Homo sapiens: one gene and its partners. The protein of the gene in region 1 interacts with the protein of each later gene in a pairwise test. Each region holds a gene or a part of one and is shown on either strand. Other genes may lie near its edges.

Region 1 (7,028 bases):
AAACCCACAGAAGGAGGGATGTACAGACAAGGGGCACACGGGAGCCAACAAGAAGAGGGAGAGGTGAACAAAAGAAACAGAAAGGACCCCTACATTCTAGGATAAGTCACAGGCCACGTTCTGCAGCTCCCCACTGGGCTTTAGAGTAAGAGATCAATGTCCTTTGAAATTCCGAATAACCACGGTTCACAGTTCTATATGTGCTCTTCACTCTTATACTTCAGAAGATCTCACTCCATATCAAGCGGTCATAAAATCCCAATAGGATGGCAATTATCTGATGGGCTCAGAGAAGGTAAGAAAAGCACAATGATCCTATGGGCACAATGAAATCAAACCTAGCTCAGATTTGTTTCCTGGGCCCTCTATGACGTCTTCCTAAAGATGTACACATCCCTGCAATGTGCTGCTGAAACGCCTTACTTGGCCAGCAGGCTCATGAGGTAGGTTGAGGTGTTGGTGTCCAGTCTCAGGGGAGGCACCGTGACATAGGCAGCCGCGTGGGACCAGTCCTGGTGGTAGTAGTGTAAGCCTGTCAGCGTGGCATGTGCAGTGGTGGTCTCCGCCAGCACAACCTTCCCTGGAAGAAGAAAGGTCAGAACCATAACCAGGAAGCCACCGAACCTGAGCGATCGCTGGTGTGTGCCTCTCATTTTACAGGTGAAGGAGCTGAGGTCAGAGACAGGAAGGGACCTGCCCAAGCTCACAGGGCTTTTAAGAGCACAGCTGGGTTCAAGCCCAGAGAGCCTCCCTATTCTGCTGACTTAGGCAAGGAGGACAGAGGGACATGGGCACCGAGGCCCAGCAGGACCAAGCGGCACTTTGAGGAGTCTGGTTTGGCCAGATGACCAGAGCACTGGTGTGTGCAGGGTGCTGTTGGCAGATGGAGCTTGACGGTGGGTGAACAGGCATGCAGGGCCACGAATGCCACGCTAAAGAGCAGTCTAGACTGTTTTCTGGACAGGCAGTTGCTGTGAGCAGCTTCAAGAGAACGGTTGTGGTAGGACAGGGAGGGCCGTAGCAGGGCTGGAGGACAGGGAGACAGGAGGTGGGAGCAGTCACCAGGCTGGGACGACAGTCTAGGCGAGACCCTCCAAGGGGCTTCAGTGAGGGGAGAGGCAGGTGGCGGGATCTAGAGGGCGATAGAGTTGAAGGCCAGGATGCCCTTGCTTCTGATCGATTATAGTTGAAGGCTGAGATGCCCTTGCTTCTGATCTGTCTCCCCAGGCTTGTGACTGTGACTTTGTTTCTCCTGCTGCCAGGCCCTCACCAGCACCTGGGGCGGGGCTGGACTCCAAGCATCTGCAAGCCTTTAGGTACTGCCAGGCGATCCGCAACAGAAGCCATACAAGTGCCCCTCGGACTCATACACAGGGTTCCAGGAGGCTAAAAGGAAGCTGGGCCCACACACTGTTCTTTCTTTAGGGACTTCCCAAACAGCCCCTGAAATGCCCACTGAAACTGGTCCAGCATTTTATGTTAGTTGCCAAGGCAACTGCTAGTAAAATCTATGAGGCCAAAAAGACACTAATTAATGAGTGGGTTTAAAACTTGGAAAATGTTACCAGACCCAGGAGAAGTGACAGACACTTCCGTAAAGCTGTTATGCATACAAATTTGCAGAAGAAAAAGCTCATGTTCTAGCAGACTAAAGCCAGCATAGCACAGGGCAGCTCTGAGGAAGACGGTGGCAGATGAAAGGGAAGGGCTGGCTCAGGTCCTGGTTTCAGGAGCCGGGGCCAGGAGTGAGCACGGCTAATGGGCCCCATCCATCTCCAGTCCCTCCACTTGACCTGCTCTGTCCAGCCAAGTCTATGGACTCACCTTGCATCTTAGCAGCTGCGATAACGTCACCAGCCGAGATACTGGACACGTTGACCAGGTAGATTGGACAGTGAGTCTAAACACAAGAAACAGTGGGAAGTAGGGAGGGTTGACCCATAAACTTCACAAGCATCAGAATAACCCTGGCAAAGTCAGCCCTGGCACCAGCGCCTCCCCCTGCGTCACTCAACCCCACCCTCAAGGTGACAGTCCTTAAGCGGAGAATGCAGGGCTGGCAGTCAGGGCAAGGTTGCAGGAACTGCATGATACGGGGAGGCAGAGAACAGCCTCCAGCACCAGAGCCCACCGGGAAGCCCAGCCTGTGAAGTTCAAGACCGTCAAGTCTGAACCTCGCATTTTCTCCCATCTGACAACCATGACTGTAATTTAAAAGGGGGGAACTCTTTTTCCTATTTTAATTTCCTGTTCATAAACGTGATGACCTAGAGTTAGTCGTGTATTCTGTATCTAAAATTACGATGCCTGCTGTCTGAAGGCTGCTTATCAGTAGACAGAATGCACCCTGGAGATGAACAAAATACAAGGGGGTTAGGGTTCAGAGTCTAGGCAAGAGAAGGCTGACCTTGCGAACGGACACCTGGACTGTAATACTGGTTAGCTTTTTCTCTACTAAGCTGTGCAACCACGGTCCATGGCTTAACTCCTCTGAGCATATGCTTGAGCTAAAAGGCAAGGAACTGACTTTTTGTTGTTTGGGTCTTTCCTTATTCTGGGTTAAGTTCCACCAGGAAGTAATTGATAAATAACTATTGTCATGACAGTGAAACAATGTCCTTGTCCAGCGGCCAGAGCTCTAAAGTGCAATTGGGAAATTCTGTTTCCCCAGATGTTATTCTGTTCTCTTTGCTTATCACATTAGGAGGATGTAGAGTTTAGGAGCTGGACTGAGTTTACACGTGAGCAATGAACTGAGCTTCAGCAGGCTCGGCGGGGTGGAATGGAAAGCTGGTGGTGAGAAGGGTGAATGCAAGGATGGTGGGCATGACAGCGCTCAGTCAGCAAACAGCTCTGGGTTCCTGTGGGCAAGACATGGTGCTGGCACCCAGAGCAGAATGGGGCTGCATCGTAGAGGTTGGTTTTCTTTCTTTCTTTCTTTCTTTCTTTTCTTTCTTTCTTTCTTTCTTTCTTTCTTTCTTTCTTTCTTTCTTTCTTTCTTTCTTTCTTTCTTTCTTTCTCTTTCTTTCTTTCTCTTTCTTTTTTCTTTTCTTTCTTTCTCTTTCTTTTTTCTTTTCTTTCTTTCTTTCTTTCTTTCTTTCTTTCTTTCCTTTCTTTCTTTTCTTTTCTTTCTTTTTTTTTTTTTTTTTTTGACAGAGTCTCGCTCAGTCACCCAGGACAGATTGCAGTTGGCACGATCTTGGCTCACTGCAACCTCCGCCTCCTGGGTTCAAGCAATTCTCCTGCCTCAGCCTCCTGAGTAGCTGGGATTACAGGTGCACGCCACCACGCCCAGCTAATTTTTGTATTTTTAGTAGCAATGGGGTTTCACCATGTTGGCCAGGCTGGTCTCAAACTCTTAACCTCAGGTGATCCACGCACCTCGGCCTCCCAAAGTGCTGGGATTACAGACATCAGCACCGTGCCTGGCCAAGGTTGGTTTCTAATCCCACAGTGGACATCGGGGGACTTACCCTGTTTGCAATGGTGATAACACGATGAGTGGCTTCAGCTTCCAGCTGTTAGAAACAAAGGACAGGAGGAAACCAAACTTCACCATCTCCTCCAAGGATACCCACACCATACTCTCCCCTTCATGGAGCAACTGCACCCATAGGGGTTGGCTCGGGGCAAAGCCCGGGCAGAGGCACTAACCTCCAACTACCTTGGCTCACAGTGAGGGAGAATTCTAGGTCTTACAATACCAGGCACGCCCTTGCTGGATGCTACTTGGGGCTTAATTAAAAGGCAAGGAAACAAAAGTAAATAAAAACCCAAGGTCATGTCTCTCCTTGTTTTCTGGTGTATTCTCTCCATAGCCACCTCAGAACTGCAGCAAAGGAGAAATAGTGGCTGATTTGACTCCGGAAATTAGCCTAGATTAGGGTTTCTGCGCATGGTACTATTGGCATTTGAGTTGTATAATTCATATATATATATATATATATATATATACACACACACACACACACACACACACACACACACATATATATATATATATATTTTTTTTTTTTTTTTAGATAGGGTCTCACTCTGTCTCCCAGGCTGGAGTGCAGTGGCATGATCATGGCCCACTGCAGCCTCCACCTCTAGGGCTCAAGCGATCCTCCCACCTCAGACTCCTGAGCAGCTGGGACTACAGGCATGCGCTACCATGCTTGGCTAATTTTTTTTTTTTTTCCCAGACGGAGTCTTGCTCTGTCGCCCAGGCTGGAGTGCAGTGGCGCAATCTTGGCTCACTGCAAGCTCCGCCTCCTGGGTTCACACCATTCTCCTGCCCCAGCCTCCCGCGTAGCTGGGACTACAGGCGCCCACCACCATGCCCGACTAATTTTTTGTATTTTTAGTAGAGACAGGATTTCACCATGTTAGCCAGGATGGTCTCGATCTCCTGACCTCGTGATCTGCCTGCCTTGGCCTCCCAAAGTGCTGGGATTACAGGTGTGAGCCACCATGCCCGGCCCATGCTTGGCTAATTTTTAAAAAGTTTTTGCAGAGATGGAGGGGGTCTCCCTTTATTGCCCAGGCTGGTCATAAACTCCTGGGCTCAAGCAATCCTCCTGCCGCAGCCTCCCAGTGCTGGGATTACAGGTGTGAGCCACTGCACCCAGCCGAGTTGCGTAATTCTTTATGGTGGGGGTGTCTGCGCATTGTGGGATGTTTAGCAGTATCACTGGCTTCTGCTCGCTAGATGCCTGTAGCATCCGCCCTGCCCCCCAGGTTGGGACAAGCAAAAATATCTCTAGATATTGTCAAATTTCCCCTGGGGAGCAACATCTCCCCTGGCATAGACCCAGGGCCCTCCCACCTTTAACCAATAGATAATGGCGGTGATAATTATTGGTATTACGACCACAGCCAAAGCCTTGCTCTTTCCCTTGTATTAAGTAACAAAGAAAGTCTAGTGTGTGTGTCCACCCCTTGCTCTCTCCTGTTCTCACAGGCATACCCTCTGTGTTTCAGTCGAATCTGGTGTGTGTTTCTCTACCAATTCAGAAGTGCCAAACAGGACCTATATTCAAGGGCTCTGAAACACAGGCACTGATCAGGGCAGTGAGGGGGCACTCCTCAGCGGACCCACTCGTGGGCCAACTTGGTTTCTGGGTAATGGCAGTGCCACCACATCCTGTGTCCTGCTCCTTGTCCCTCGAGGCCTCCCCCTCAATCCCTCATGGATAACCAACCACCCATCTGCATTTTTAGGCTTTGAAGAAATGAGAAGTTTCTCCCCCTCTTCTAAAACAGTAGAGAATGTGTAAACAGGGTAATAGGGCAGGAATGCGTTATTCGTCTAATGTGGTCCCTCTAGAGCAGAATTCTTTAGCAGGGGGACTGTAGGGGATTTGTGTCAATGCCATGCAAAACTGTGCACAGGGATAAAGCCAGAGGGCAGGCGGAAAACAGCTTTGAATGACCATCTCAGCAGGTAATGAGGGGGAGGAGCATAGACTTGTATGTGTCTCCTGTTTTTGGTGGAAAGGGTCCAAAGCGGCAGTCCCCAACCATTTTGGCACCAGGGACCGGTTTCGTGGAACACGATTTTTCCACAGACCAGGACAGGGATGGGGCAGTGGTGGTGGGAAATGGGGAGGGATGGTTTCAGGATGAAACTGTTCCACCTCAGGACTGGGCACGGTGGCTCACGCCTGTAATCCCAGCACTTTGGGAGGCTGAGGTGGGTGGATCACTTGAGGTCAGGAGTTCGAAACCAGCCTGACCAGCATGGTGAAACCCCGTCTCTACTAAACATACAAAATTAGCTGGGTGTGGCGGTGCATGCCTGTAATTCCAACTACTTGGGAGGCTGAGGCAGGAGAATGGCTTGAACCCGGGATGCAGAGGTTGCAGTGAGCCGAGATTGCGCCATTGCACTACAGCCTGGGCAACAAGAGCGAGACTCCATCTCAAAATAAATAAAATAAAATAAAGAAAGAAACTGTTCCACCTCAGATCATCAGGCATTAGTTAGATTCTCATAAGGAGCGTGCAACCTAGATCCCTCGCATGTGCAGTTCACAATAGGCTTCACACTTCTATGAGAATCTAAGGCCACCACTGATCAGACAGGAGGTGGAGCCCAGGGGGCTCTCAGCTGGCCCGCTGCTCACCTCCTGCTCTGCGGTCCTGTACCGGTTCATGACCTGGGGGTTGGTGACCCCTGGTCCAAAGTATTCCTCAGATGCTCAAAGGAATGTCATCCCCCAAAGGCAGAGTTTATAGTTTGAAATTTCTTCTAACACCTGAAGGCCTTTTCAGTCTGTCTTTTGTCTCTTGATTCAGTTTTGGGCACAGCAACCCCAGGTGTGCTGACATTGTCTCCCCTAGATCCTTGAAATCAGAATCAAATGGAAATTTCACCCGTGGAGAAAATGATGCTATACACACACACACACACGCACACACGTATGTGTGTGCGTGTGTGTGCGTATATATATGTATGTGTGTGTGTGTATATATATATATATATACTCTATCACCTTGGCTGGATTGCAGTGGCATCATCACGGCTCACTGCAGCCTCAACCTCCTGGGCTCAGGTGATCCTCCTGCCTCAGCCTCCCAAGTAGTTAGCTGGGACTACAGGCATGCACCACTATGCCCAGCTAATTTTTTTTGTATTTTTAGTAGAGACGGAGTTTCACCATGTTGCCCAGGCTGGTCTTAAATTCCTGGGTTCAAGCCATCCACCCACCTCAGCCTCCCAAATGTTGGGATTACAGACATGAGCCCTTGTGCCTGGCTAATTTGTATGTTTGATGTCTCCTCCATCCTGGAAGATTCTGTCAATCTACATGAGAGACGCTGACAAAGGCTACAGGAAGTGTTTCTCACCTCCTCTGGACGGCTGATCTCGATTCCTTCTGGGCCTGTGATCCCCAAATCCAGTGCCTCCTTAGCACCCTGGATAACAGCAAGAGAAAGAAAATGGAGAGAATCACAGAGACACCGTGTAAGAAAATACTGAACCCAAGGGACAGTGAAATATGCTAGACACCGCCTGTTTCAATAGGCTTGCTTCTTTTCTC
Region 2 (6,209 bases), on another chromosome or scaffold:
AGACAGAATCTCGCTCTGTCACCCAGGCTGGAGTGCAATGGTGCAATCTCAGCTCACTGCAACATCCGCCTCCTGGGTTCAAGAGATTCTCCTGTCTCAGCCTCCCGAGTAGGTGGGATTACAGGCATGTGCCACCACGCCTGGCTAATTTTTTATTTTTAGTAGAGGCAGGCTTTCACCATGTTGGCCAGGCTGGTCTCGAACTCCTGATCTCAGGTGATCTGCCTGCCTCGGTCTCCCAAAGTGTCGGGATTACATGTGTGAGCCACCGTACCCGGCCCCTCCTTATTTCCTTTAGCATAGGTATCCCCCAGGACAATCTACACACCTCTCAACTCACTGTGGCATCGCCTCTCAGGGCACCAGGATTCACGCACAGGGTGGATGTAGCCTTTCTACTAGTTTACAGGCAAATGCTAGGCACCTCTCTGGCCATTCTCAGAATTACCAGGGACACAGGCAGAGAAGACGCCGGCTCTCACTGTCAGATGGGCACAAGGAAACGAGCCACACTAGAGTACACACTTCAAAATGTTTTTATTGGATTTAATTTCCCAAACACTGACATTTTAGACAATTTTGCAAGGACTCTGAATTTTTGCAGGGCTATTTTTGGATACTGTAAAAAAAAAAAAAAGAAACAACACACACACACACACACACTCATAGCAGAGCTGCTCTGCTCGCTCTAAGGCCTCTTTGAGGGAAGGACAGTTCCAAAAGGCACTGACCGGTGACATGGGTGGGCCCTGCCCCTCCTCAGGCAGCCAGCTCAGCCATGGCCCTGTCCAAGGGGTCCACAGACCAGTAATCATCATCCCAGCCAAGGAACCAGCCCACAAAGGAGGGAGGCTCAAAGCCTTGCTTCACCACGGTGATGGGCGTCCGCCGATCCCGATTGGCTGGGTCCGTCTCGATGTACCGCTTAGCTGCAGACACACGTGCAAGAAAAGGAAACCCCAGGAATTCTTAGTGCCTCCCACACCAGGGAGAGGGTGACTCAGGACAGGAGTTGACAAAGAAGAGGGTCTATGGTCCTACTGTCCCTACTGCCCACCCCCTGCCCTGGGCACCATCCTCCTTTAAAGGCATGATACCCACGTGGGCTCTCCACCACCCTGCTCAGGAACACAGGAAGGAACAGGGCTACGGCTTAATCTCCTGCTTCATAAAGCTTATTACTTTCCCTTGCAGTCCCCTACTGGAAGATATGGGAACCAACTTTTGGGTTCCCAGCTCACAAATCAGATCTATTCAGCTGCCAAGAATCTGCTTTGCAACATCTTTTTCTTTTTTTTTTTCATTTTGAGACACCATCTCATTCTGTCACCCAGGCTACAGTATAGTGGTGCGATCATGGCTCACAGCAGCCGTGAACTCCTGGGCTCAAGCAATCCTCTGACCTCAACCTCCTGAGTAGCTGGGACCACGGGTGTACACCAACACGCCTGGCTAATTTTTTTGTATTTTTTCTAGAGATGAGGTTTCACTATGTTGCCCGGGCTGCTTTCAAACTCCTGGGCTCAAGTGATCCTCCTGCCTTGGCCTCCCAAAATGCTGGGATTACATGCATGAGTCACCATGCCTGGCCTGCTTTGCCACATCTAAACCTTGACAAGTTCAGCTTCTGAGTATTCTGGGAACTTGAAGTGACTTCTCATCTGTCCCTTCCTTCTCCTGGAACAGAGGAGAGCCTTCTTTGAGAAGCCTCAGGGTTTCTGAAGGAACTGATGTGTTCTTCACTATCCCAGGCAGGATTTATGAGGGGCTGGCCCACAGAGGAGGAAGTCCCCACCCTATCTTGTCCATCAGTCCCCTGGAAAGATGCTCATTCCCAGACCTGTACAGGAGCCACTCCCAGCACCCCACAAGCAACGGACCCCTCCCCCCGCCCCCAGGCACTCGGGTCCTCACCAGAAGTCAAGGCTTCTGTCTTTTCTTCTTCTTGAGAATCCTTTCCAACCCAGACAAAGACCTGGAGGTGAGATGCAACAGGAAAGGTACATGAGGAGTGCTGATCAAATTCACGGCTGGAGGAAGACTGGGGAGGGGCCAGGTATCAGACCAGACAAAGCCCTCCCCTTTCTAACAGAGCCCATGAACTAAGACTGGAAGGATTTGGAACAGAGGTTGAAAACTGGCAACCTACAAACATGTTTTGTTTGCTCACCCACCACCTTGTGTTAGCCAACAATGTCTTTTTAAACCGTTATGACATAAAAATCTAGATTTCCAACTTCTCTTTAAAAATTGGAGGATCTAGCAGCCTGGGCCTTCAAACCTCACTTGAGTCAAGCTGCGCAGGAGCTGCCCCTTTGAGATGAGCAGTTCTAGTTTGCCTCAGACTCCACTGCTCCTTCACGTCTCCCCAGCCCAGCCTGCTTCATTCGCTAACATTGCCAACCAGGTACCATCAGGCATTGAGTTTGAGATTCTTCTCTAAAGGTCCATGAGTTATCTCTTGAACAGCATTCACTCGTTCAACAAATGAGTGGCCAAACATATTCTCACCCATTTATTTATCCAACAAATATGCACCGAGAGTCTACTATGTGCCGGTCTGTGTGCATCTTTGTCAAAATGGGCCTAAGGCTTGGAATAAAAATAACTCACCCACCACTATCACCATTTTGAGTCTTGTTACAAGTTCTATTACACATTATTTAGCTGATTTTTATGTATCATCTATTTTTATGCATATCTAAAATATTACTTCAAAGAGCACCTATCATTGATAAAATGGCATTAGACAATAAAATGTCAGACTTCATTTTTCTCACTTTTTTTTGAGACGGAGTCTCACTCTGTCACCCAGGCTGGAGTGCAGTGGCATGATCTCAGCTCACTGCAACCTCCGCCTCCTGGGTTCAAGTGATTCTTCTGCCTCGACCTCCCAAGTAGGTGGGATTATAAGCACCCACCACCAAGCCTGGCTAATTGTTTTGTATTTTTAGTAGAGATGGGGTTTCACCATGTTGGCCAGGCTGGTCTTGAACTCCTGACCTCAAGTGATCTGCCCACCTCAGCCTCTCAAAGTGCTGGGTTTACAAGTGTGAGCCAACATGTCTGGCCCTCTCTTACTTATTTATAAATGTGTTCCCAACTAAAGTGGAAGCCCCTCGAAGGCAGGCATTCTATTTTGCTCATCATAGGATTCTCAGCACTCAGCATTTTGCCTGCAAGACCATGGTGCTGAATAAATGTTGGCTGACTGAATCCCTAACAGATGAACAAACAGATTAAGTAGCCAATGGATCAATCAATGACAACTGCTGAATGGCTCAAGCTGCAATCATTTTTGGTCCCGATCTTCCAACTGGGGATTCCGAGCATCCCTGTGGGTAGTGTAGAGTCTTATGCCTTCGTGGCCAGCTGCTCCGTAACTCTGAGGACTCTGGGAGAAGCCACCTTGATAGGAAAGGTGACTGACCTGACACCCCTGTGAGAACGTAAGCCCTGGGAGAGCAGGAAAATGCCTACTTTATTCATTGCTCTATCCCAGCATCTCAAACATAAAGCACCTGGCACAAAGCAGTGCCCAATTAATATTGGTTGAGTAAGTGAATGGCATCTTCCCCTGCCAAGTCCTACATAATGGCCTTCTCTAGGAGATGAAGTGGAGACAGAGCCCAGAGCCCTCAAACCAGAAGCAGGAGCCCTCTAGAGCCTCTAGGTGACACTGGACAGTTTATGCCTGCAAACAAGATGCTGCTAAGTTCAACTTCCTCTGCCAACAGATTTAAAGGAAGAGTTCACGCTCCTGCAAGGTCTGGGAGAGAATGATGAAGGTCATGTGATTTGCCTTTATAGGGCGTTTTGCAGCTTTCAAGGTGAGTGTATCTGCAAGGGAGGTACCGCCACTCCCAGTTTACAGATGAGGAAATGGAAGCTCAGAAAGAAGAAGTGACTTCCAGTACCCTTAGAGACTTTTCTGGCAACACCTGGCACTGCCCCCTTTAGGTCCTTCTAGCAACTGATCATAGAACTGGAAGTCTAGTTTCTCCCACTCCCTCTGGCACAGAGAGCCTTCACCTGTCCTTCACCCACCTGGTCCCAGGTGTCCAGAAGCATGACGTCATCCGTTGCCAGGTCTTCCTGCATGAGCTCACCAGGAACCTCTTCGATCTGGGAAGGAACGAAAGAGCATCAGTGAGATGTCTTCCCTCCCCTGGGTGGCCTTCCTTTATCTGCCCCCTGAGGGAGTGGCACAGCTGGCTGCAGCTGGCAGGGGGCCCCTTCCTCTGTGCCACACCATCAGAACTGTTTCTCCTGCCCCTGCTGCCGGCCAGTCCTGTGGAACTCGCCTCCCGAGGGGAAAGCAGAGGTGTGACCTCCGCAGGGGCTCACCACAAAACGTCCAATCTTGTTGGAGCAGGCAAAGAGGCGAGGAGGATGGGCATCCATCTTCTTGTCCTTCAGCCGTGGGGATGTGCGGTAGGCAGCCTTCCCGCCCAGGGCCTCCCAGAAGCCATCTGTGAGGGGAGGCCACGCCAGTTGCCAAGGGACGCCATCACCCCTCTCTCCCATCTCATCGGACCCTGGGACCAGCCCTGCCCAAGCGCAACCAACTGCTCTCCCTCTCCTCCCTCCATCCTAAAAATCCCAGGAGATCCAGAGGGAAGAGGCCTGAGGGAATTGGAAGGTGACGAAATAGAGGCCCAGAGAGGGCAGACTTGGCAGTAGTCACACAGCCAGGACCACTATTGGCTTGAGGCTGACGACAGCATTGCGGGATGAGGACCATTAGCTCCACTCAGCTAATGAGGCAGTTGTGGCTCGGAGAGGTTAAGCAACTCACTCAAGGTCACACAGATGGTAAGTGTTAAGACCAGGATACAAATCTTGTCTGATTCTAACACCTATACTCTTTCCACTATACCTGCTCTGTCCATGTGCAGCCATTTAAATTTAAATTCATTAAAATTAAATTCGACTAAAAGTTCAGTTCTTCATTCCCACTAATTCCCACTGGTCGCATTTCAAGTGCTCAACAGCCACATGTGACTAATGGCTGTCAAATTGGACTCGGCAGATACAGAACATGTCCATCTGCATAGAAGGTTCTGCTGGACAGAGCTGCTTTAGACCAAGTCACTCTTCACCATTTCTGTTAAGCATCAAGCAGGTGGGAATGAACTCAAAGTAACAGTATAAAGACTGCAGGCTGGCAGAAGGAAGAGCTGCCCGGCCCACATTCTGGAAACAGAGCAGGCTGGTGGCATTTCTGTCCATGGAGAGTCTAGAGATGCAAGGAGACCACTGCTCCTCTGACGCTATCAGCCCTGCCTACCACCTTTCAAGGCTTCCTAGCGAGGGACCGCCTCCTTCCACAGACCAACTGCTCCTTCCCACACTGGGCTCTCCTTTCTTTCTTTCTTTCTTCTTTTTGAGACAGAGTTTTACTCCTGTTGCCCAGGCTGGAGTGCAATAGCGTGATCTCAGCTCACCGCAACCTCCAACTCTCGGGTTGAAGTGATTCTCCTGCCTCAGCCTCCCGAGTAGCTGGGATTATACAGGCATGTGCCACCATGCCCGGCTAATTTTGTATTTTAGTAGAGATGGGGTTTCTCCATGTTGGTCAGGCTAGTCTTGAACTCCCGACCTCAGGTGATCCGCCCGCCTTAGCCTCCCAAAGTGCTGGGATTACAGGCATGAACCACCACGCCCAGGCTAGGCTCTCCTTTCTTTAGCTCCTGGAGACCTCCCTCTCTCTGGCCACAGCCCTCATTTTAATGCAACTGCTTTTATTTAACATACATTAGGGGACAGGCCCTCAGGTGGGATGGAGGGGAGGATTTAGAGCCCCCAAGCTGAAGGAAAGAAGGGGGAAACTTAATAGCTGCATCCGGACAGCAGCAGGCCCCCCACCCCGGCTCCTACCTGGCTCGCTGCCTTCTGCCACCTGCACAGGTTGGGCCCGCAGCACCCTGAGCAGCTCCTGGGCCCCCGTCTTCTCTGCCTCGCTGGCTCCTGTACCCACCCACAGGTAGGCGGCTGAGGGGGTTTTCAGAACAAAGGCATCGTTGGAGTTCAGTGCACCAGCCTTAGGCAATACCTGGGAGGGTACAGCTTGGTTAATCAGGAACCAGACAAAAAGCCCTCAGCCCCCTCCTCACAGCCCAGGAGACCCCGCAGCAGGACTAGCTCTCAGGTGGGGACTTGGAGGAACACAGCCCATCAGAGCTGAGGGCACAGACTTTGGACCCTGA
Region 3 (7,028 bases), on another chromosome or scaffold:
ACGCTCACCCTGCCGCTCTCCACAATCTCTCTCTGGAGGTCCTTAGAGGCCACGATGAGCACCTGAATAGCTTGCATGAGGCTGGTACAGCAACCAAGGATCCTGCCAAACAAACAAGTCGAGGATACACTGAGATCAAGATCCAAGATCAATGAACACGACGGTTCTCTTCCCCACTCCTAGCCAAAGGCAAGCTTGGAATGGGAAAGGGAGGTAAGAAGGGTGCTGAGGTTGCTGGAACATTCTGCGGGGAGGCACCGAAGGAGAGGCTGGGGAGTGAGAGAGATCTAATTGTGGGTCTCCATCGTAAGGAATAGTGAAATTGTGATTCCTAGGACTTCTTTTCTTCTTTTTTGAGACAGAGTCTTGCTCTGTCGCCCAGGCTAGAGTGCAGAGGCACGATCTTGGCTCACTGCAACCTCCACCTCCCAGGTTCAAGTGATTCTCCTGCCTCAGCCTCCAAAGTAGCTGGGATTACATGCATGCACCACCACGCCTGGCTAATTTTTGTATTTTTAGTAAAGATGACTTTTCACCACATTGGGCAGGCTGGTCTCGAACTCCCGACCTCAGGTGATCCTCCCTCCTCAGCCTCCCAAAGTGCTGGGATTACAGGCGGGAGCTACCGCGCGGGTTTCTTTTCTATAGTGAAACAGCAATATTGCTGTCATCATTAATACTGTTATTGATGATTACATCAACTCAGCCCTTCCCCGTGGCTGCTACTGCTCTCCTCTAATTCCCTAATAAGTATGCAAAGTATAGACCAATGTCAGGAAGACAGATCCTGCTCCCCTAGGTCCCACCATGCCGCTCAGACCGACCTTTCATTCACCTCCAATTTGACTCCTGTGTCTCCTGCTCGGGATTTGCTGAGCATCTCCTGTGAAAAAGAAGCATGGTTTCTAAATGTGCCTTGAATATTAAGGATCCACTAATGTCTTACTATACTTTCAGTCCAACATCGTGTGGTAGCTGGGAAACCTGAATCTGGAAGTCCCCAAGTCCCTGCCCACATTCTTGAGAGAGTCAGAAAAGAATCCAGACTCTAACCTATTCAGGGGGAGTGCAGCTGCAGTGGGCTGGCTCTGTGATCCGTGTCATTTTGTTTTGTTTTGAGATGGAGTCTCACTCTGTCACCCAGGCTGGAGTGAGCGGTACGATCTCGGCTCACTGCAACCTCCGCCTCCTGGGTTCAAGTGATTCTTCTGCCTCAGCCTTCTGAGTGGCTGGGATTACAGGCACGCGCCACCACGCCCAGCTAATTTTTGTATGTTTAGTAGAGACCAGGTTTCACCATGTTGTCCAGGCTGGTCTCAAACTCCTGACCTCATGATCTGCCTGCCTCGGCCTCCCAAAGTGCTGGGAATACAGGCGTGAGCCACCACGCCTGGCCAGAACCCAGGATGTTCTGACACCAAAGTATCTGATTCTTGAGGAAACTAATCACCTTCTCTCATGAGGACCTTCTCTCATGAGGACCTTCTCATTTTCTATCACTCAGAAAAACTAGCGAGTTCAGATTTTGGTCTCTCTTTTTTTTTTTTATAATTTAAAAACATTTTTACAGACAGGGTCTCACTCTCTCACCCAGGCTAGAGTGCAGTGGTGCAATCATGGCTCACTGTAGCCTCCAATTCCTGGGCTCAAGTGATCCTCCTGCAGCCTCTGGAGTAGCTGGGACTATAAGCATGCACCACCATGCCCAGCTAATTATTTTATCTTTTGTAGAGATGGGGTCTTGCTATGATGTCCAGGCTGGTCTCAAACTCCTGGACTCAAGTGATCCTCCCAAGGTGCTGGGGTTACAGGCATGAGCCACTGTGCCTGGCAAATTCTGGTTTCTGTCTTAGGGGGTTGCCATGGCCTTAATGAACGACTGTGACATGTTTAATGAGCAGTGTTGCAGAAGGGCAGCTGCAAAGGCATCGTTTCAGGAGATCCTGCAGGAACCTCCTACCTCTATTCTGGCCGTGGCAGTTTCAATAGCAGCTGAAGTGGCCGCCATCTCCTTGTCCACCAGGTCCCCCAGCTCCTCCTGCTTGATGTCCAGTCCCCTGGGCAGGAGCTCCTGTGAACACATCACAAAGGCTGAACTGACCTTGGGGCCTCCTGTCTCTTCTCCTCTGCCATCTGTAACCCTTACAAGATGGCAAGGCAGGAGGCCACCCAGCAAACACCTTCTGCAAGCCACAGGGGTTGTGGGGGGGTCTTTTGCAGACCCCATCTTGTCCTCTCTGTGACACAAACTCTGGAACCTCATGCTCCTCCTCACTCAGGATCCACCTCCTTCCAGAATGCCATCGCTGCCTCCCCCTGCAAGGCCATTCCGCCACCACTAAGACCCCAGTCCCTTAGTTGTGCAGTGTCAATTGTACTAGCTACACAGGAGGTATTTTTTTACAATTTTTCTTTTTCTTTTGCTTTCTTTCTTTTCTTTTCTTTTTTTTTTTTTTTTGAGACAGAGTCTCAATCTGTTGCCCAGGCTGGAGTACAGTGGCACAATCTCGGCTCACTGCAGCCTCCGCCTCCCGGGCTCAAGGGATTATCCTGCCTCAGCCTCCCAAGTAGCTGGGATTGCAGGTTTGCACCACCATGCCCAGCTAATTTTTATATTTTTAGTAGAGATGGGTTTCACTATTTTGCCCAGGCTGGTCTCAAACTCCTGACCTCAGGTAATCCTCCTGCCTCAGCCTCCCAAAGTGCTGGGATTACAGGTGTAAGCCACCACACCTGGCCCTAATTTTTTATTTTTTTGAGACACAGTCTTGCCCTGTCACCAGAGATGGAGTGCAGTGGCATGATCATAGCTCACTGCAGCCTCGACCTTCCATGCTCAAGCAATTCTCCCACCTCTACCACCAGAGTATCTGGGAGTACAGAGGTGCACCACCAAGCCCGGATAATTGTTTTTTTTTTTTTTTTAATAGAGATGGGGTCTCACTATGTTGCCCAGGCTGGTCTTGAATTCCTGGGCTCAAGTGATCCTCCTGTCTTGGCTTCCCAATGTGCTGGGATTGAATTACTATACCTGGCCTACAACTTTTTCAAATACAGATGATATCTTCCACTTTGACCCTGACTTAACTTTGCTTCCACAGTGATCATATGAGGCGGGTATTATTCCTACTGTGCAGATAGGAAGCCAGGGATCAGAGGTAGAACGTCTTGACCACAGTTATGGTAACAAATGGCAGGGCAGGGATTTGAACTAAGGTCTGACAAACAGCAAAGCCTATGATTTTTAAAACATGATGTGTTATACATACTAAGGTATAAAATATATATGAATGGTTCAAAGGATAAGAATAAAGACGCATGTTATCCACCACCCAACTTAAAACTTAAGGAATGCTGTAAGAAACATCAATACCTTTGGAATCCTATTTGAACTTGTATGTGCCCTGATTCTATCTCCCTTACTCCCTGCCTTCTACCCCAAGAGACACAGAATTCAAGAGCGTGGTTGTTGTGTCTTATTTTATTTTTATTTTTTAAAGACAAAACATAAAAGCCTGTTGCCCAGGCTAGAGTGCAGTGGTGCGATCATAGCTCACTGCAGCCTCCCACTCCTGGGCTCAAGTGATCCTCCCTGCCTCAGCCTCCTGAGTAGCTGGGACAACGGGCACACACCACTAGGCTCTGCTAACTTTTAAACTTTTTTGTAGAGTCAGAGTCTTGCTTTGTAGCCCAGGCTGTATCAAACTCCTGGCCTCAAGTGATCCTCCCGCTTCGGCCTCCCAAAGTGCTGGGATTTTCAGACATGTGCCACTATGCCTGGCCTGTCTTATTATTATTATTTTTTAATTCCACATAGATGCATCCCTATTAAGTTTGAATGTTTGAGTCTTTATATAAAAGGAATCCTACTGTATATATTTTTCCATGACTTGATTTTTCACTCAACATTCTATGTGTGAGATTCATCCTAATACCTAGTAATTCTGATTCTATGTATATACTCTAGAGAAACTGACATGTGTGCATATATGATCATAGGGGCAAATTAATAACAACCCAAACTGGAAATAACCCAAGTGTCCATCACCAAGAGAACAGACGGATGAATTAAGCGATATTCACACAATAGATAATGAGAGAGCAGTGAAAATGAATTTATCTTCTTGGATTAATCTCACAGAATGTGGAGTGAAAAAGCCAGTTGTAGAAGAATATATACAGTAGGACTCCATTTACCTGTAGTCTATATCATGTGAAACTAACTCTATTATTTAGGGAGGCAAAGATGTAGATGATAATTTTTTTTTTTTTTTTTTTTTTTTTTGAGGCAGTGTCTCACTCTGTCGCCCAGGCTGGAGTGCAGTGGTGCAATCTCGGCTCACTGCAGCCTCCGCCTCCCAGGCTCAAAGGATTATCCTGCCTCAGCCTCTCAAGTAGCTGGGATTACAGGTATGTGCTGGGATTACAAAATTAGCCACCACAACTGGCTAATTTTGTATTTTTAATAGAGATGGAGTTTCACTATATTGGCCAGGCTGGTCTCAAACTCCTGGCCTCAAGTGATCCACCCACCTCAGCCTCCCAAAGTGCTGGGATTACAGGCGTGAGCCACCACACCTGGCCCTGATCTTTTTATTTTTTCTTTTTAGAGACAGGGTCTTACTCTCTCACCCAGGCTGGAGTACAGTGGTTCACTGCAGGTGAACCACTCTGCAGAGTACACTCTGCAATTCACTGCAGAGTACACGGTTCACTGCAGTCTTGAGCTCCCAGGCTTAGGTGATCCTCCTGCCTCAGCCTCCTGAGTAGCTGGGACCAAAAGTGCTCACCATCACACCCGGCCAATTTTTAAATTTGTTGTAGAGACAGGGCGCCACTAAGTTGCCCAGGCTGGTCTCAAATTCCTGGCCTCAATTGATCCACCCACCTTGGCTGGATGTGGTCTTTTTATTATCTTCTTCTGGAACTCCAATTAGACAGTCTATCCTCATGGCTTTTATTTTTTATTTATTTTTTGAGTGGAGTTTCGCTCCTGTTGCCCAGGTTGGAGTGCAAAGGCACGATCTTAGCTCACTGCAACCTCAGCCTCCCAGGTTCAAGTGATTCTCCTGCCTCAGCCTCCTAAGTAGCTGGGATTACAGGCGCCTACCATCACGCCTGGCTAATTTTTTGTACTTTTAGTAGAGATGGGGTTTTGCCATGTTGGCCAGGCTGGTCTAGAACTCCTGACCTCAGGTGATCCACCTGCCTCGGCCTCCCAAAATGTTGGGATTACAGGCGTGAGCCACCGTGCCTGGCCCTATCCTTGTATCTTAACCAATATATTCCAATTCATAACACTGGGGAAAAAATGAAAAAAAACTGTACTGCATAGAAATGGTTTTCTTATTTTTCTTTTCCATAGAGTCCATGTCTTCTCTGTCCCTATATATACTTAACCCAATTTCTGGTATACAGGACATATTTATTTATAGCAGAGGCAGGGTCTCACTCTGTTGCCTAGGCTGGAGTGCAGTGGCACAATCATAGCTCACTGTGGCCTCCAAATCCTGGGCTCAAGCGATCCTCCTGCCTCAGCCTCCCGAGTAGCTGGGACTACAGGTGCGTGACATCACACCTGTCTAATTAAAAAAAAAATTTTATTTTGTAGAGACAGGGTCTCACTATGTTGCCTAGGCTGATATTGAACTCCTGGCCTCAAGTGATCCTCCTGCCTCGGCCTCCCAAAGTGCAGGGATTACAGGTGTGAGCCACCATGCTCGGCACTACATCTTTAGTAAATGAATGAACACAGTGTTATTTCCATTTTGGGTATTACCTGCCCACCTAGATAAAAATCCTCAGAGACAGGGGAGCTGCCTATACTTCTTTGATATTGCCTAGTGTAATGATGACAACATAGTAGATTCTCAGCTAACAGCCAGTGAATTAAATATAGCTGGAAAGTCCTTCAGGAGGTTTTTCCTTTTTAAATTTTTTTTTTTTTAATTTTTAAAGAGACAGGGTCTCATTTTGTTGCCTAGGCCTGTCTCAAACTTCTGGGATCAAGTGATCCTTTTTTTTTTCGAGATAGATCTCACTCTTATGCCCAGGCTGGAGTGCAATGGCATGATCTCGGTGCACTGCAACCTCCACCTCCTGGGTTCAAGCAATTCTCTTGACTCCACCTCCCAGTACCTGGGATTATAGGCATGCACCACTATGCTGGGTTGATTTTTGTATTTTTAGTAGAGACAGGGTTTCACCCTGTTGGCCAGGCTGGTCTCTAGCTCTTGACCTCAAGTGATCTGCCCACCTCAGCCTCCCAAAGTGCTGGGATTACAGGCGTGAGCCATCCCGTCTAGCCTCAAGTGATCCTCCTGACTCGGCCTCCCAAAGTGCTGGGATTACACGCATAAATCACTGCACCCGGCCAGATTTTCCAATTTTAACAATCTCTTTCTAGAATCAAGTTCTAAGTGCAGAAAGAACTAGCTCAGAACATCACCGATTCCCTGGCCATTCACCAGCACGCACACCCAGAAGAATAACAATGCTCCTCAATGATACTACTCCAAGTACCTCGCCGATGGCCTTGATCTTGCTCAGGCAGTTCCTCATGGCTGTGCTGTCGGCATTCTCAAGGCTTCCCTCTTCCTCCAGGGAGGCCAGGTAGGCGAGGGTTTCCCTGCCATACTGCTTACAGGCCTCGGTCAGTGCTGGAGATACAAGGCAATAGACACTTTTTTTTTGAGATGGAGTCTCGCTCTTGTTGCCCAGGCTGGAGTGCAGTGGCGCCATCTCGGCTCACTGCAAACTCCGCCTCCTGAGTTCAAGCGATTCTCCTGCCTCGGCCTCCCAAGTAGCTGGGATTACGGGTGCGCCACCATGCCCGGCTAATTTTTGTATTTTTAGTAGAGACGGGGTTTCGCCATGTTGGCCAGGCTGGTCTCGAACTCCTGACCTCAGGTGATCTGCCCACCTCGTCCTCCCAAAGTGTTACGGCGATTACAGGCGTGAACCATTGCATCTGGCCCATCGTTTTTGTATCTTTAGTAGAGATGGGGTTTTGCCATGTTGGCCAGGCT
Region 4 (6,881 bases), on another chromosome or scaffold:
ATTTAATGACATGAAAGCCAACAAGTAGGACAACTATTATTTTTTTCACTTTCCCAAAACAATAACAGTGTTGTATTTGTGCACAGATTCAATTGGCAGGGAACTACTGATTAACAGATGCCTTGGTCAGATGTGTTCTAGTCACTGATAAGGTACTTTCCATTGTAAACAATCCTTTCTTAGGGTCAGTTGGCCCTCAGTAAGTGCTCCAAGGTACAGTTAAGGCTTCCAATTAAGTATTCAAGCAAAGCCTGCCTCAAGGCCGCCTTTCAGAAGTGCTACAGAAGAGTTTCCTGCGCGCTGTGAACAGTTGGACTACATCAGGGATTCCCAAAGTTTTGGTGTCAGGACCCCTTTACTTTCTTATCCACTGAGGACTTCACAGAGGTTTATGTGAGTCATATGTATTGGTATTTACAGTATTAGAAATTAAAACTGAGAAATGAATAAAATATAAGAACATCAGAGTGGTGAGGTCATCACATGTTACGTAGCCACTGGAAAACTCTGCTGTACACTGGTGAGAGGATGAGAGTGAAAAGGACAAAGGACAAATAACTTCTTTTTTTTTTTTTTTTTTTGAGACAGAGTTTCGCTCATGTTGCCCAGGCTGGAATGCAGTGGCGCAATCTTGGCTCACCGCAACCTCCGCCTCCTGGGTTCAAGCGATTCTCCTGCCTCGGCCTCCCAAGTAGCTGGGATTACAGGCATGTGCCACGACACCGGCTAATTTTTCTATTTTTAGTAGAGACTGGGTTTCACCATGTTGGTCAGGCTGGTCTTGAACTCCTGATCTCAGGTGATCCGCCCGCCTCAGCCTCCCAAAGTGCTGGGATTACAGGCGTGAGCCACTGTGCCCAGCAGAAAAGGACAAATACCTTCTTAACCTTATTCCGAAGTTTTGATTTCACAGACGCATGAAAAGGTCCTCGAGAGTCACTGAATTAGATAATCAAGAACCCTTCCAATACTATGGTTTTCGAGCAGGATTTATCAATGTTGGCACCATTGACATTTTCAGGGAGATGATTCTTTGTTGTCAGGGGCTGCCCTGTGCTTAGTTAGGATGTTTAGCAGCATCCTTGGCCTCTACCCACTAGATGCTAAAAGCAATCCCCCAGTTGTTACAACCAAAAATGTCTCCAGATGTTGCCAAATGTCCCCTGGTTGAGAATCACTATTCCAGGGTGTTGATTTCATTCTACTGAAATGTGAATTACAAAATGTATACCTCTCACTGCTTTCTCAGACCCCTAATATGTCTATTTCTTCCCCACTCCCATCTGGGTCTGTTCTTTATGTTATTTTATTAAGTCACAAATAGCAAGAGCAGGTGGGTAGCAACAAGCACAGCATGAATCAAAGTCAGGAAGAGACACTTTAGTCAAAGTTCACTTTTAGGCATTAAAGTTGTTAGCGACCCACTGCCTATTAGGGCACAACACAATCAGCGAACATTCACCCAGCCATTTATTTATTGATTTATTTATTTTTATTTTTTGAGACAGAGTTTCACTCTTGTCGCCCAGGCTGGAGTGCAATGGCGCAATCTTGGCTCACTGCAACCTCCGCCTTCTGGGTTCAAGCGATTCTCCTGCCTCAGCCGCCCAAGCAGCTGGGATTACAGGCATGTGCCACGACGCCCGGCTAATTTTTGTATTTTTAGTAGAGACGGGGTTTCACCATGTTGGCCAGGCTGGTCTTGAATTCCTGACCTCAGGTGATACACCCACCTCGGCCTCCCAAAGTGCTGGGATTACAGGCATGAGCCACCACGCCCGGCCCCATCCAGCCATTCTTAGGCCCTGGTAACAACCCAATCCTTAGCAAGTTTGTCTACCTGCTCCCTGCACCCCCAAAATATGAGGTAATAGGCTAGCTGTGTGATGGGGAAGAAAGAAAAGAAGAAACTCTGAAGGCAAAGAGGTAGTCTACCAAACTCAAATACTCCACCCCCAAAACCTCACATCTGGGAGGCCCTCCTAACTGAAACGTCTGGGGATTTTTTTGTCAGCGTCTGGCTGGGAGGAAGTAGCAAAACTGGGAGAAAATCGACATCCTCAATACCTCCAAGTCAGATGTGCACTCCCCATCAAAGTTCCCCCTGAACCCCTTAGTCTCCAGAGGTTGGGTCCAAGTTTTCTTTCCTGGAAATTGCCCCAGCTACCTTAGGTTCCTTCGCCCTTAAAACTATGACTACCAAACTCAAACCCAGCATCACTCCTAATCTCTTGAATCATCCTTTCTTCACAGTCTCAAATTCCAACCTTCAAAATGCCCAACCCTGTCACTGCCCCTGCCCCTCAGGCTCTACTGTCCTATCTGTCCCATCTGTCCCCCACCCACACACTTCTCCCAAGCTACTCCAGGCAGGCATGGTCTTCTCTCTTAATTTCCTATCTCACCCCATAGTTTTTCCACCATCTTCAAAACTCTTCCCTGATCTCAGCAAACCAAGACTCTCCTAATTGTCTCTGGCGCCCAAAATCTGCATGTACCACCCTCCTACGCTCACTCCTCAGTGTTTTCCCCAAGTTACTCTTTCCACGCTGACCCTCTCCACGCTTCACTCCTCCCAGCCTACTCCCTCGGCGTCCACCCCCCGTTACCGGCCCCTTCTTACTCTCCTGGGCCCTTCTTCCCCGCCATCCGTCGGTCAGGCCTTCTCTAGGTCACCGCTTGCCTCCCCGGGCCAACCGCCGCCGCCCAGTGTTAGCTGCTGAGCCTCTCAACCCCCTCCCCCTCGGACCAGTCTTTCAGGTTGTAGCTTTGAACTGGTGCCCCGGGCCCAGGCGGACAGACTAATCGGGAGGGCCCGACAACTCACCCAGGACTAGGCAGACCAGAACGAGCCCTGAGCCCGGAACCGGGAAGAGGCGGAAGCACACCATGACCCCGCAGAGCAGGCGGCGACGGCGGCGACGGCGGCGGTACAACAACAGCTGCAACACCAGGGAAAAGGCTCGCTGGACCTGGGTCAAGAGCACTGATGACCACCGACCACAGCCTTGCAAAAGCCAGGAATCGGCGCTTCAGTGCGAGTCATAAGACTAGGGGCGGGGCTCTTTCTTGCTTACAGCCAATCTCCGCGCTTGAAAGCGGCGAGAGGGGTGGTGATGTAGCGGCCGGTGGGCGGGGCGACCACGCCCTGGCTTTTTGGTTCACAGCCCTTCCTATGCTCCTGAGAGATATGCGCGGACGGCATTTTCTTTTTCTTTTTCTTTCTTTTTTTTTTTTTTTTTTAATTTTACTTTAAGTTCTGGGATACATGTGCAGAATGTGCAGCTTTGTTACATAGGTATACATGTGCCATGGTGGTTTACTGCACCTATCAACCCGTCATCTAGGTTTTAAGCCCCACATGCATTAGGTATTTCTCCTAATGCTCTCCCTCCCCTTGGCCCCCACCCCTTGACAGGCCCCCGTGTGTGTTGTTCCCCTCCCTGTGTCCATGTGTTCTCATTGTTCAACTCCCACTTATGAGTGAGAACATGCAGTGTTTTGTTTTCTGTTCCTGTGTTAGTTTGCTAAGGATGATGGCTTCCAGCTTCATCCATGTCCCTGCAAAGGACATGATCTCATTTTTTTATGGCTGCATAGTATTCCATGGCATATATGTGCCACGTTTTCTTTATCTAGTCTATCATTGATGGGCATTTGGGTTGGTTCCAAGTCTTTGCTATTGTAAATAGTGCTGCAATAAACATACGTGTGCATGCGTCAAATGGTATTTCTGGTTCTAGATTTTTGAGGAATCGCCACACTGTCTGCCACAATAGTTGAACTAATTTACACTCCCACCAACAGTGTAAAAGCATTCCTATTTTTCCTCAGCCTCGCCAGCATCTATTGTTTCCTGATTTTTTAATAATCACCATTCTGACTGGCGTGAGATGGTATCTCATTGTGGTTTTGATTTGCCTTTCTCTAATGATCAGTGATAATGAGCTTTTTTTCATGTTTGTTGCTGCATAAATGTCTTTTTTTGAGAAGTGTCTGGTCATATCCTTTGCCCACTTTTTGATGGGGTTGTTTTTTTCTTGTAAATTTGTTTAAGGTCCTTGTAGATTCTGGATATTAGACCTTTGTCAGATGGGTAGATTGCAAAAATTTTCTCCCATTCTGCAGGTTGCCTGTTCACGCTAATGCTAATTTCTTTTGCTGTGCAGAAGTTCTTTTAATTAGATCCCATTTGTCAATTTTGACTTTTGTTGCGATTGCTTTTGGTGTTTTAGCCATGAGGTCTTTGCCCATGCCTATGGCGGACGGTATTTTCTAAGGCTAAGGAGAGAGGAGGAACTTTTGAGGGCCGTAGATAGTAGACTATTTCCGTTTTGGCTCCTTGACAAAGAAGAGAAAAATTTTGCGGGCACAAAAACGGTTGCTAGGCATCTCAAACGTAATACATACAAAAATAATACATGCTTATTCTCCAAACACTGTTGTTACCTATGCAGTTCATGCTGTGAGATGGACGAGGGAACCTAGGGGGTAGTATGGAGTCACGGACCATCGGAACAAGACATGATCTTGAAATTCACCTAGTTACAGCACCCTGTTCTCAGGTGGGGGAATTGAGCTCAGAAACAAGAAGCATCTTTTTTAAACACAGGAAGAAAAAAATGAGAGAAATAAAACAGAAGGATAAAGCGGAAAAATAGAGATCATCTGTATTCCTACTATTAACATTATTATATATATTTACACACATATATACACACACCCACATCTATACTTCCAGATATTTTTCCTATGTACATACACACAAATATTCTGTAATGAGTTCATACTAAGCATACTGTTTGCTATACTTGATAGATGAACAGACAAAACCTAAAATATTCAACAGATGAAAGCATTTAAAAATCTTGAGTTGGAATAAAGCACTGATTCTCAAGTGTTAGTTTCCAAAAGAACCATCTGGTTTTGGGTTTTTTTTTTTTAACATACAGATTCCTGTACCTCATTCCCCAGAGATTCTGAAACAGTAGGTCTGTGGCAGTCTTATTAATCACTTCTTTAACAAACACCCCAAGTGATTCTGATTCTGTGGTCCATGGACCACACTTTGAGAAAAACACTGAAAGAGAGCTTCAAAATCATCTAGTCCAGGAGATTTTAATCTGGAGTTTATGTATGAGTTTAGACAGGATGGGAGAGGTGTCGGTGAATCCTCAGAAATTACATGCAACATTTATGTATGTGTATTTTTGTGGGGAAGTTTGTAGTTTTCACTAGTTCTCCAATGGGACCTGTGACTCCTTGCCCTAACCCCTACCCTAATTCAAATATTAAGAAGCACCGATCTGCCCCACTATTGTTTGCTTTAATGTAATTAATTCCTGAAAGTGAGAACATTTGTCAATGAATGTTTACTACCATAGGTGAAACTAATTTGTGAACAAGTGACCCAACACAAGACTAATGAACACTGCATACAGTGTTAGTCATTGCCTTTAGCAAAATGTCTTTTGACTGCCATCAATGAGACTTGGCAGGAGCTATGTCCTGGGCATAGTAGTCTTCAGAGAACCCACAACTGAGTTGAGCCCTCTGAAGATGCCCCACCAATACTTCCTGGACTCTAGCTCTTCTCTTTCAATTGTAAATCGCATAACTTTAATGTTCAGTAAAACCCTAAGCTCTTTCTATAAGAAGAAACAAAAAAAGAACATAGTGGAAAGAACATTGGGTTAGCAGTCAGAGGAGTTGGTTGTGAGACACCACTTACTGGCAGTGTGATCTTAGGCAGGTCACTTCATCTGTTTGAACTTCTATATCTTTATTGGTAAAATGAAATAATGAGACTAGAGCTGTTTCTTGATCCTGGCTGCATGTTGGAATCACTTGTGGAGCTTTAAAAGTGGAAAATTCCCCTTGGTCCCATCCCTTGAGATTCTGATTCAGTTTATCTGAAGTCAGGCCTGGGCATGGTGTTTTTCTCAAAACTCCCCAAAACAATATTGGTGGGCCTCAGATGATCTCTAAGTTGGCATCAGGTTTATAATTCAAGGATTCTATGTGAGTAAATGCTCATTTATTTAAAATTGGCCAGGTGCAGTGGCTCAAACCTGTAATCCCAACACTTTGGGAAGCCAAAGCAGGCAGATTGCCTGAGCTCAGGAGTTTGAGACCAGTCTGACCAACATGGTGAAACCCCATCTCTACAAAAAATTAAAAATTAGCTGGGGGTGGTGGCGTGCACCTGTAGTCCCAGCTACTTGGGGGCTGAGGCAAGAGGATTGTTCAAGTCCAGGAGGTGGAGGCTGCAGTGAGCCATGTTTGCACCACTGCACTCCAGCCTGGGTGACAGAGCAAGACCCTGTCTCTGAAAATATATGTATATATTTATATATAAGGATAGCCAGCCATGGTGGTGCACACCTGTAGTCCCAGATACCAGGGAGGCTGAGATGGGAGGGTCGCTTGAGCCCAGGAGGTTGAGGCTGCAGTGCTCTTTGATGGCGCCACTGCACTCCAGCCTATGCAAATGAGTGAGACCCTGTCTCTAACAATTAAAATAAAATAAAATACTGTCCCAATTTGTCAAATATCTGGTGTAATAAATTGTCGCCCTTTATCTCTTGAAGGTGTCATCAAATTAAAAAAATAAACACAGTGAAATATGAGCAGCCTTACAAGCGAAATCCACCCTCACCCCCATCACAACCTTTTCCTCAGGCAAATACAAATGCTGGCTCCTTGACTGGGACAGGCATCGTCGTGAGACACAACAATGTTTTGAAAGTTGTAGATACATGCTGGGTATTTTGTCAGCATAAATAGGCTAAAAATTCTCAAGTCTTTGTTTGCACTGAGCTTCCATACTCAGAAATGTTTAATGTTTTCTCCAAAAAACACTGTGAGAAAGATCCCTTTTC

What was found.
Region 2: the proteins of DPYSL5 (region 1) and GSN interact in binary tests that used the Homo sapiens proteins (3 or more experiments, as listed by UniProt).
Region 3: the proteins of DPYSL5 (region 1) and HIP1 interact in binary tests that used the Homo sapiens proteins (3 or more experiments, as listed by UniProt).
Region 4: the proteins of DPYSL5 (region 1) and LAMP2 interact in binary tests that used the Homo sapiens proteins (3 or more experiments, as listed by UniProt).

What each region holds. Positions count from the first base shown.
Region 1 is NC_000002.12:26,928,130-26,935,157, reverse strand, and holds part of DPYSL5 (dihydropyrimidinase-related protein 5), read right to left. Parts: intron 6,904-7,028; coding exon 6,835-6,903; intron 3,519-6,834; coding exon 3,474-3,518; intron 1,901-3,473; coding exon 1,825-1,900; intron 581-1,824; coding exon 424-580; intron 1-423. UniProt on the Homo sapiens protein: Involved in the negative regulation of dendrite outgrowth.
Region 2 is NC_000009.12:121,327,154-121,333,362, reverse strand, and holds the end of GSN (gelsolin), read right to left. Parts: intron 6,056-6,209; coding exon 5,881-6,055; intron 4,473-5,880; coding exon 4,348-4,472; intron 4,126-4,347; coding exon 4,048-4,125; intron 1,976-4,047; coding exon 1,915-1,975; intron 930-1,914; coding exon 760-929; 3' UTR 521-759; downstream 1-520. UniProt on the Homo sapiens protein: Calcium-regulated, actin-modulating protein that binds to the plus (or barbed) ends of actin monomers or filaments, preventing monomer exchange (end-blocking or capping).
Region 3 is NC_000007.14:75,546,931-75,553,958, forward strand, and holds part of HIP1 (huntingtin-interacting protein 1), read right to left. Parts: intron 6,660-7,028; coding exon 6,523-6,659; intron 2,072-6,522; coding exon 1,961-2,071; intron 884-1,960; coding exon 825-883; intron 103-824; coding exon 9-102; intron 1-8. UniProt on the Homo sapiens protein: Plays a role in clathrin-mediated endocytosis and trafficking. Involved in regulating AMPA receptor trafficking in the central nervous system in an NMDA-dependent manner. Regulates presynaptic nerve terminal activity.
Region 4 is NC_000023.11:120,466,279-120,473,159, forward strand, and holds the start of LAMP2 (lysosome-associated membrane glycoprotein 2 isoform A precursor), read right to left. Parts: upstream 3,019-6,881; 5' UTR 2,892-3,018; coding exon 2,828-2,891; intron 1-2,827. UniProt on the Homo sapiens protein: Lysosomal membrane glycoprotein which plays an important role in lysosome biogenesis, lysosomal pH regulation and autophagy.